3 linked regions of the Homo sapiens genome follow. The gene in region 1 interacts genetically with each later gene. Each region holds a gene or a part of one and is shown on either strand. Other genes may lie near its edges. The genes, in order: ITGB7, CFTR and LCK.

The links.
Region 2: changes in ITGB7 (region 1) and CFTR together harm fitness more than expected from each alone (negative genetic interaction), as found in Homo sapiens cells (one study listed by BioGRID).
Region 3: changes in ITGB7 (region 1) and LCK together harm fitness more than expected from each alone (negative genetic interaction), as found in Homo sapiens cells (one large-scale study listed by BioGRID).

The regions. Positions count from the first base shown.
Region 1 is NC_000012.12:53,193,944-53,197,307, forward strand, and holds part of ITGB7 (integrin beta-7 isoform a precursor), read right to left. Parts: intron 2,878-3,364; coding exon 2,636-2,877; intron 2,257-2,635; coding exon 2,098-2,256; intron 1,779-2,097; coding exon 1,683-1,778; intron 1,521-1,682; coding exon 1,431-1,520; intron 1,200-1,430; exon of another isoform or gene 402-1,199; coding exon 255-401; exon of another isoform or gene 1-254. UniProt on the Homo sapiens protein: Integrin ITGA4/ITGB7 (alpha-4/beta-7) (Peyer patches-specific homing receptor LPAM-1) is an adhesion molecule that mediates lymphocyte migration and homing to gut-associated lymphoid tissue (GALT).
Region 2 is NC_000007.14:117,486,410-117,490,059, forward strand, and holds part of CFTR (cystic fibrosis transmembrane conductance regulator), read left to right. Parts: intron 1-3,650. UniProt on the Homo sapiens protein: Epithelial ion channel that plays an important role in the regulation of epithelial ion and water transport and fluid homeostasis. Mediates the transport of chloride ions across the cell membrane.
Region 3 is NC_000001.11:32,271,615-32,275,264, forward strand, and holds part of LCK (tyrosine-protein kinase Lck), read left to right. Parts: intron 1-2,506; exon of another isoform or gene 2,507-2,583; coding exon of another isoform or gene 2,584-2,715; coding exon 2,716-2,820; intron 2,821-3,122; coding exon 3,123-3,204; coding exon of another isoform or gene 3,205-3,378; coding exon 3,379-3,469; intron 3,470-3,650. UniProt on the Homo sapiens protein: Non-receptor tyrosine-protein kinase that plays an essential role in the selection and maturation of developing T-cells in the thymus and in the function of mature T-cells. Plays a key role in T-cell antigen receptor (TCR)-linked signal transduction pathways.

The sequences.
Region 1 (3,364 bases):
ACACACATACCCCAAACTCACCAATCATCCAGAACCTCACCCCTTAGTAAATGAAGGGATGGGGTCATGTTAACACCCAACTCCTAGAAACATGCCTGAGGAAGCCACTCAGACTGCTCCAGGAAGGATGGATGGAGGACTACCTCAGGCTCTCATGTCACTCCCTGTACCTGCCACCCATCTTTTCCTGCCTGCTTAATTTCCCACTCCCACCTCCCCCTGCCCGCCTTCTGCCTGTGCTTGCTGGCTCTCACCGTCTGGTTGATTCGGACGTGGTTGCACTGTCCTCGATCCTCAGCCTTACCCTCCCTCTTCTCAGGACCCTCACACTGGGATTCGTAAGAAATGTGGACCCCAGGAGGGAGTGAAGAGTGTTCAAGGGTCACGGTGGAAGACAGGCTCTATGGGAAGAGAGCGAGTGGATAACCACGTGAAGGCAGAAAAGGACTCCAACCCCACCTTATGTCCTCTCCAGGTGTTCCCAATTCTGCCAGCACCCTGCCCTCTGCCACCTGGGGCTCCTTCCATTCTGCCCAGTCGAGGCATTTCTGGAGGGAGGACCCGTGAGAACCTTGCATAGAACATACAGGATCCAGAGGCCTCTAATACAGCATTTCAGTGCAGCTGCCAGCAAGGGCCACTGAGGGTCACAGGCTGGCCAGGTGCTGTAAATGTACAGAGACCATGTTTGTGAAGCCCCACATCAGGACACATAACCTGGGTGCATGCCAGGTCTAAAGGGCAGATTCATTACAGAGTTTATCTTGGGAAATTTGATACTGTCTCAGATTTTCTTGCCATAGGTTTAGGAGATGCTCCCTGTTATCAAGAAGCCTACAGCCTAGTTGCAGAGGTAAGACCTAAACCACTAAGAATTTTTATGGTTCCTTCTACCTGTAAAATTCTATGGTTCTTGTGAAGAATAGCTCTGAATTATTTATAAACTTAGTGAAAGCAGGCTCCAGATCTCACATTGTTTATGTACAGACTGACTGGGGACAAATGCCAGCCCTTCTGTTTGTTATCTTTGTGACCTTGGACAAGTCACTTAGCCTCCTTGTGTGGGTTTCCTCATCTGTAAAATAGGGATGGTAACAGTTATGAAGCAAGGCTTTTGGCAGGGTTAAATGAAGTAGCAAACAGTATGTACACCTAGGATGGTGGGCGCATGAAATAAAAGCTCAGTGATTGAAACTTTCCTTTCTTGCCCAGAGCAGAGCTCCATGCTGTCTGCATGTCAGATGTTTTAAGATTTATGAATGTAAGATTGAACAGTTAATGACAGCCACATGCAGACTATAGGTAGGAGCTGTGGAATGTTAGACCAAAAAGTGACCATTTCCTCTTAGTTCTGCCACCCCACCCAAGGGCCCCTTTCCACCTTTCCCTAGTGCCCACCCTCACCATCTCCCCTTCCCCTGGCCCCTCACATTATAAGCATCCATGATGAGCTGTACCACGTTGCTGGAGTCCTCACTCAGCTCCCCAACTGCAGACTTAGGAATCAGTTTACTCAGCTCCTGAGTTTTGGGGAGTTAAGGGAAATGGTGGGTCACAGCTCTAGGAAAATGGGCTCCCGGAGGTCTGGAAGGAGGGCATATGGGGGACGGAGAATGTATCTTTGGGGGAATTGAGAAAGGTTGGGATGGGGCTGGGGGATCTGACATGTAGACAGCTCTCACCTGGTAGACAGGCAGTGCGGCACTGGTGACAGCAAAGATGGGCTGGATATTTGCTGCAGAGAGGGCCTGGGCTACCTGACCCACAGAAGGGTAGTCCTGGGACAGGGAGCAGGGACAAGGTGAGCCCCACAGGTTTCCCCCACAACATGCAAGGTGCCCTCAGCCCAGGGAATCCAGGAACCAAGGTTCCACCAGCTGGAGGAGCCCTGGAGGCTTGCTATGGAATAGGAAGGAGGTAGGGAATGGGGTGACAAAGGTGTCCTGTCTCGGCAGCTGAAAGGAGGAACTGCTGGAGAAGATGGCAGGGTGTCTACAGGGTGGTTACTGGTGAGGACTGTAAGGCTGGGAGTGGGAGTCCTGGAAGGAAAGAGGTGTGGCTGAAATGGGGAGAGGCAGGGTGACAATAGGGACTCACAAACTCTGTGCTGCGACTGTAGAGGCCATTGCTGTCCAAGTGGCAGTGCCCATCACTGGGCATGAAAATGCCGCCCAACTTCCCGTCCCCAGCTGTATGGAATGTGTCGTCTGAAGTGAACACCAGCAGCCGGGACACATTTCTCCAGCCAATCTGCTCCTGAGTTACAGTGGGGGTGGTAGGCTATGCACCTGGGCATGGCCCTTGAGCCACCCCAGCCAGCTCTGTGAGCCAAGAATGTGGCCAGCCTCACTCTGAGTCAGCTTGTCCATCCCCTTGCCTCCAGTACCTTGCTTCTCCCTGCTCTCTCCAGCCCCCTAAAGAAGGCTGCTGCTAGTGGAGGCTTACTTGTGAATTCGAAAAACATGCCTCCTCCTCAAGATATTTTACTCCAACCCACCAGGTAATTGCTAAATATACAAACTACAGCAACTATGGTATGAATGGCACCCCCTAGAACTGTGCACTACACAACCATAAGGGGCAGTCCTGTTCCCAAACAGACCTCCAGGCTCAGATCCCCGCCCCACCTCCTCACCTGGCAGAGTGCAGCCTGCAGAATGGCATCGAAGCCACCTTCAGGCGAGTCCAGATTGCCGGACACACTCTGGCGCCCCACCTCCCGCTCGAAGGCTTGTGCGTCCCCCGTCAGGGACAGCACATGGTGAAAGCTGAATGGTGACTGGCAGCGCTCCAGCCGGGTGGGGCAGGGGTGGCGCAGTTTGGAGGGTACTGTGCTCACAAAGGGCAGCACCGTTTTGTCCACAAAGGAACCAAAACCTGGGAGAGGAGAGGAATGAAGGTTGTGCCAGAAGTCGCAGGGCAGCAACAGAGGACCCATGAGAGCGCTCTATGGGAAGTGGGGTGGGGAGGACGGTGATGGGAGAGGGTGCACCTAGGGGGCAGGGACCTGGTAACTGGCAAGCAAAGCAGTGAGACCACTGGCTCAGGGAAGTGGCAGGTAGAAGACATTAAGAGGAGGACACAACTTCCTGGGCAAATGGGAACTTCCAGAAGGCGGAAGAAGGCCCGGGTATAGGATATGGTAGCAGCATGAGGCAAAGGAAGGAAATTTGAATAGAGGAGAGTTGGCACAGAATGTGGAGCCAGGGACAGTGGCATCTAGGTCTTGTCCAGGGAGACTTGCATCAGGGCAGGTTCCAGGTTGGTAGGCCCAGGGCAGCTGTCCAGGCCCAGAGAGTGCCTGAGCACAGTCTCTCCAGACGCTGGGTCTCAGGCCTGTAAAACGGATAGTCTCTTGAGTCCT
Region 2 (3,650 bases), on another chromosome or scaffold:
TTCTCGAGGGCTTCATTGAAGTACTCAACTGGGGCACTTAACCCAGTCTAAGGCTGGTCAAGGAAGGCTTGCTGGGGGAAGTGTCTTTTGTATTCACACCTAAAGGAGGTTATTCAATTAGAATTATCCAAAGAGGGTAGGGATGGGCTAGGAAAAATTTAAACAGGTAGTGTGGAGGACTGACAGGATAAGTAAGCATGGCACCTTCAAAATATCCTGAGAAGTTCCCTATGACGGGAACATAAAATATGTGACAGAGATTTGTGGGAGATGGGTCTGGAAACTCTAGCAGGGGCCAGATCGTAAGGGGGCTTTGTAGGCTTTGTAGGCTTTGTTTGGGCTTTATCATACTGGAAGTGAAAAGCCATGGCTTTTAAACAGGAGAGGGACATAATCAGTTCATATACTGTTGCAGTTTTGTAAAAGAAAAGATGAGCTGAAAGAGTGGCCATGGTGGAGGTGGGTGGGGTGGGGGGGAGGGGGCGGGGAGAGAGAGAGAGAGAGAGAGATTTGAAAGACATTTAGGAGGTAAAATCAACTGGTTTGGTAATCAATTAGTAGTTGAAGGTGAAGGAAAGAGAAGAGTTAAGGATAACATCTATATTTGTTGATTTGGATAATAGAGGGGACAGTGGTGCTGCTTATTGAATGAGAAAATTTAATCGGAGAAGAAGGCATGGAGCAGGAGTGCAGACCTATGTGACTCTACTTCTCTCAAAACCAGAAACGGAAATGATGTATATGGCTCAGGGTTAGGTAATATGGTTATTTGAAAATGTATTAAAGTGATTTAGAGCTTAGTCTTAGGTAAGAGATATAAGATGTCTGAGGTGACAGTTTTATAAATATGTAGAGTGCCCACTTGTTTGGCCTTATTGTGGCATAGTGTGACCTGAGAGTGTTAGGAAGAAGCAGCTGAGTTCTAGGGACAGTACTGGTTAAATTCTACTTAGAAATTATACTTAGAACTCTCCTATATAACCTGCTAACTGATGTCTGAACCTCCTGATAACTTCACTCCTTTAGGCAGTGCTTTTCACATCACGGGACACAACATATGAGAGATCATAGAAATTCAATGTGGTATGAAAATCTGCTTGGGACTTCAGATATTGTCTCCAGTGATTGAATAAAAATAGGAGCTCACCTACTATGATGAGGTTTCTGTGTGTGTTAAAAGAAGGTTTTCATTACTTTTGAAAAGGTTATGTATCCTTGTTTTATGTTAAAACTTTGAGCTTTGTTAAATATGCAGAGTTCTCTTTCTTAGCATGGACTACAGAGGTGCAACTACCTCCTACCTGACTTCACATCTACTCCCAAATGCCTAGTGAAGGCTTAATAATTTCAAAAAGGGACTCTAGAATTTCATTTGATACCAGTCAGACAAATGTGTGAAAATTAAGCATAATAGGCAGAATCCCAGGGGTACTGACAGCTGTATTAAGAGGTGATTCAAGGGCTAAACCTTAGAGTCCAGCATTGGTTATGGGTGTGACAAGAAAATGAAGCCTATGTTGGCTGGGATTAGCAACCACAGTTCTAGAGGAAGCAAGGTGGAGAAACTATATAGGGGGCTCCCTTTGTACGTTTTATTTATTTTAAACATCTCTATAAACTCTAGAAATTAAAACAACAATACCAACACAAAAGCATCACTTTTTCGACCAAAGACCATTGCTATACTTTTTTGTGTAAAGGGCTAGATAGTAAATATTTTCAGCTTTGTGGGCCACATAAGTCTCTGCAATAGACAATATGCAAACAAATAAGCATGGCTGTGTTTCAATTAAACTTTATTATGAACATTAAAATTTGAATTTCATATAACTTTTACATGTTGCAAAATATTCTTTATTTAAATTCTATTGCAATATGCTTTAAAAGATACAGTTTTTAGTCTTTCTTAGTTTAAAATAAAATCTAGAAAAAATTTTAAGTCTTCTATAACTTTTTTTCGGTAACTGAATAATTTTAAAAGTAAGTGAAACATTTAGACATGCAAAATGGACTTTTCAGAAGAAGAAAATGGTAGCTTAACAGTTATTAGATTATTGTCCAGAATAATTTTTGACTTATAAGTCTCTGTTGACCATTTCATTGCCTCTTTTTTTGGAATATGCATCTTTTAATGTGTCCTTCAAGGCAAAGGCTCTATCTTATCTATCTTGTGTCTTGCATTTTCCCAGGGCAATGTTTTTCACAATTTTTTTAAAAAACAATACTGTAATCAATTTTCAAATAAAATTTTCCATGGGACCGCAGTGTATACAAATAGCAGTGACAATAAAAGATAATAACTCTCCCATAAATACAAAGAAACAGTTAACCTAGTGCTCTAAAGTAAAGGCTACAGTGATTTTGTATAACATTTATATGTAATTTTCTTGATCCTACATGGTTGTGTTTTTCACAGTGTTATGTTTCTGAAATCGAGATGCCTTTTATAATTGATGTCAAAAGAAACTTGTCAGCCACAAGGCCCAGGAATAAGTTGTAATATGGGAACTTAGCAATACATAAAGGTATATATACTCCTGTGACCTCAGCTGAATTATTTGCATTGGTTGCATCCCACAAGGTTGACTCTTAAATAAATTTAGTTTGTTGCTTGAAATTTCTTGGGATAAATTACTTTGTGATGTAGTTTTGAAAAAAAAACAGGTAATATTTAGTCTGAAGTTTGTCTGACATACTAAGCAATGTAATTAAAGTAGAAGTCGCCTAAGCTCAGCACTTTATTATGCCTTGAAATTATACTGCCTGTCCTACAGGTGAAGGTGTTATGAATGCAGTTTGTCACTGTAACTCTATTCATAGCTCTGAAAGGCTGAGAGTGACTCAGAAGAATATTTTTGCTCTGAATATGAAGAACGCTTAGACTAAAACTTTAATTACGATGCTGAAGAAGAAAGTGGTAGGTGATTGCATGAATAAGTATGTAATATTGTTAATTTCTAAAAACTGTGTATAGTTAATGTAGTGCTTCTTTTTGGAAAGGCTATTGTTAAATTGATGGTAAATTCTATAACCAATATCACCTTAAAGCAAGTACGCATGATAAAGTATTATAAAACCATGATAATATCATATGTGGCTTATTATTGTTCCCTGAGTGTTGTACAACTCTGTTATGCTGTGATGAAACCTCATGCAAACAGGTATGTCAAAGATATGATGGGCTGTTAACTGAGCTTGGCCCACATATGGTGTAGTGACATGCTCACTAATGCAGTGCAGAGATAACCAATAACAGATCATAACAGGTTTAAATATGTGCAAGGAGATGTCAGCAGAAGCTTTCCTACATAGTGAATACTAAACAAGCCTGACAGCCCAGGATCATGTTCGGATCAATCTAGTGTGCTAAAATTAACATATAGTCCTACATTTGAGAATGTGTGATTTTCTTGGTTCCTGTCTATAAAATAATATTTTAAAATACATACATTTCAAATCAGAAGTTGGTGAATTCACTGAAATATTTCTAGAGAACACTAGGTATTGGGGCTCATAGTGTGAAAACCACTGACTTAATTCTTCCCCCATCTTGGTTGTTCCTGATCTTCCCTTGTGTCCCCATTCCAGCCATTTGTATCCTTAGAAAATGATCTCATATTCTACTTCATCTTTATCTTCATTGTCAACTG
Region 3 (3,650 bases), on another chromosome or scaffold:
GATTGGGTCATTGCACTGCAGTCTGGGCAAGAGAGTGACACTTTATCTCAAAAATAAATCAACAAATAATAAAATTGGAGATTAGGCTTGCTGGTTTCTAAGACCTTTGCAGATGGGAGACTCTATGCATTAACACTGCATGTTCCAGTTGACATTTATTAACTAATTTTGGGTGCTGGTGGCTTTCAGACAAATAAACTACAGCTTCTGCTCTTGATGAACCCCCACTCTCATCAAAGGTATGGGAGAGGCAGTGGGACCCTGGGGCTGACATGTAAATCAGTAATCATGGAACTCTGTGTCTAAGTTGATTATTGAGGTCTGAATAGAATGTTGCAGGAGACTGGGGTGAGAGGGAAGCAAAGAGCATTGGGAAGTCTTCAGACTAGGTGATATTTAGGCCAGGTGCCTGTAATCCGAGCACTTTGGGAGGCTGAGGCAGGAGAATTGCTTGAGGCCAGGAGTTCGAGACCAGCCTGGCCAACATGGTGAAACCCTGTCTCTACTAAAAATACAAAAGTTAGCCAAGCGTGATGGTGCATGCCTGTAATCCCAACTACTCAGGAGGCCGAGGCAGGAGAATTGCTTGAACCTGGGAGGTAGAGGTTGCAGGAAAAAAAAAAAAGGTAATATTTCAGCTGAGCCTTGAAGGTTGAGTTAGAATTCAGCAGTTGGACAAAAGAGAGCATGCCGACTGGGTTCGGTGGTGCATGCCTATAATCCTAGCATTTGGGGAGGCCAAGGCAGGAGGATTGCTTGAGCCCAGGAGTTCGAGATCAGACTGGGCAACATAGTGAGACCTCATCTCTACAAAAAAATAATCAGCTGGGCATGATGGTGTGCACCTTTAGTCTCAGCTACTGGGGAGGTTGAGGTGGGAAGATTGCTTGAGCCCAGGAGGTCTAAGGGGATTGCGCCACTGCACTTCAGCCTGGGAGAGGAAGGGAGACCCTGTCTCAAGAGAGAGAGAGAAAGAGAGAGAGAGAGAGAAAGAGAGAGAGAGAGAGAAAGAGAGAGAGAGAGAGAGAGAGAGAGCGAGAGAGCGCACGCATTTCAAAGCAGGGAGAACCACAAGTACAAAGGCATTAAGTAAGAAAATAGCATGGGGTGTTTGGGAAAGGCAAGAATAGTTCAGAACACAGGCTGTGTGTGTGGGGGTGTGTGGGGGTGCCTGTGTGTGGGTGTTTGTGTGTGTGTGAGTGTGGGTGTGTGGGGGTATCTATGGAGGGGATGCCTGTGTGTGTGTGTAAGGTGAGTGTGTGGATGTGTGCATGGGTGTGGGTGAGTGTGTGGAGGTGCCTGTGTGTGTGTATGAATGTGTGTTGGGGAGGGGAGAATGTGTGTGTGTGGGGTGAGTGCGTGTGTGTGGGGGTGAATGCGTGTGTGTGTGTATGTGGGTGTGACTGTGTGGGTGTGTGGACGAGTGTGTGTGTTCCTGGGTGTGGGAGCCTGTGTGTGTAGGGGGAGTATGTATAGGGTGTGTGCATGAATGTGTGTGTGGGTACGTGTGTGAGAGTGGGTGCCTGTGTGTGGGGGGTGAGTGTGTGTGTGGGGGGGCACTTGTGGAGGGTGAGTGTATGTGTTTACTGAGTGTGAGTGTGGGTGCCTGTGTGTGGGAGGGTGAGTCTGTGTGTGAGTGTGTGGGGGAGTACCTGTGAGGGGTGAGTGTGTGTGTTTATGTGAAAGTGTGTGTGTGTGGATGCCTCTGTGGAGGTGGGATAGGGGGTGCCTCTGTGTGTGTGTGTGAGAGTGTGTGTGTGTAGGGTGTGTATATGTATAGGGTGTGTGTGAGTGTGTGTGTGTGAGAGAGTGTGTGTGTGGCAGAATAGACTGCGGAGGTGGATTTCATCTTGATATGAAAGGTCTGGAATGCATGGTACATTAAACTTTGAGGACAGCGCTTTCCAAGCACTCTGAGGAGCAGCCCTAGAGAAGGAGGAGCTGCAGGGACTCCGGGGGCTTCAAAGTGAGGGCCCCACTCTGCTTCAGGCAAAACAGGCACACATTTATCACTTTATCTATGGAGTTCTGCTTGATTTCATCAGACAAAAAATTTCCACTGCTAAAACAGGCAAATAAACAAAAAAAAAGTTATGGCCAACAGAGTCACTGGAGGGTTTTCTGCTGGGGAGAAGCAAGCCCGTGTTTGAAGGAACCCTGTGAGATGACTGTGGGCTGTGTGAGGGGAACAGCGGGGGCTTGATGGTGGACTTCGGGAGCAGAAGCCTCTTTCTCAGCCTCCTCAGCTAGACAGGGGAATTATAATAGGAGGTGTGGCGTGCACACCTCTCCAGTAGGGGAGGGTCTGATAAGTCAGGTCTCTCCCAGGCTTGGGAAAGTGTGTGTCATCTCTAGGAGGTGGTCCTCCCAACACAGGGTACTGGCAGAGGGAGAGGGAGGGGGCAGAGGCAGGAAGTGGGTAACTAGACTAACAAAGGTGCCTGTGGCGGTTTGCCCATCCCAGGTGGGAGGGTGGGGCTAGGGCTCAGGGGCCGTGTGTGAATTTACTTGTAGCCTGAGGGCTCAGAGGGAGCACCGGTTTGGAGCTGGGACCCCCTATTTTAGCTTTTCTGTGGCTGGTGAATGGGGATCCCAGGATCTCACAATCTCAGGTACTTTTGGAACTTTCCAGGGCAAGGCCCCATTATATCTGATGTTGGGGGAGCAGATCTTGGGGGAGCCCCTTCAGCCCCCTCTTCCATTCCCTCAGGGACCATGGGCTGTGGCTGCAGCTCACACCCGGAAGATGACTGGATGGAAAACATCGATGTGTGTGAGAACTGCCATTATCCCATAGTCCCACTGGATGGCAAGGGCACGGTAAGAGGCGAGACAGGGGCCTTGGTGAGGGAGTTGGGTAGAGAATGCAACCCAGGAGAAAGAAATGACCAGCACTACAGGCCCTTGAAAGAATAGAGTGGCCCTCTCCCCTGAAATACAGAAAGGAAAAGAGGCCCAGAGAGGGGAAGGGAATCTCCTAAGATCACACAGAAAGTAGTTGGTAAACTCAGGGATAACATCTAACCAGGCTGGAGAGGCTGAGAGCAGAGCAGGGGGGAAGGGGGCCAGGGTCTGACCCAATCTTCTGCTTTCTGACCCCACCCTCATCCCCCACTCCACAGCTGCTCATCCGAAATGGCTCTGAGGTGCGGGACCCACTGGTTACCTACGAAGGCTCCAATCCGCCGGCTTCCCCACTGCAAGGTGACCCCAGGCAGCAGGGCCTGAAAGACAAGGCCTGCGGATCCCTGGCTGTTGGCTTCCACCTCTCCCCCACCTACTTTCTCCCCGGTCTTGCCTTCCTTGTCCCCCACCCTGTAACTCCAGGCTTCCTGCCGATCCCAGCTCGGTTCTCCCTGATGCCCCTTGTCTTTACAGACAACCTGGTTATCGCTCTGCACAGCTATGAGCCCTCTCACGACGGAGATCTGGGCTTTGAGAAGGGGGAACAGCTCCGCATCCTGGAGCAGTGAGTCCCTCTCCACCTTGCTCTGGCGGAGTCCGTGAGGGAGCGGCGATCTCCGCGACCCGCAGCCCTCCTGCGGCCCTTGACCAGCTCGGGGTGGCCGCCCTTGGGACAAAATTCGAGGCTCAGTATTGCTGAGCCAGGGTTGGGGGAGGCTGGCTTAAGGGGTGGAGGGGTCTTTGAG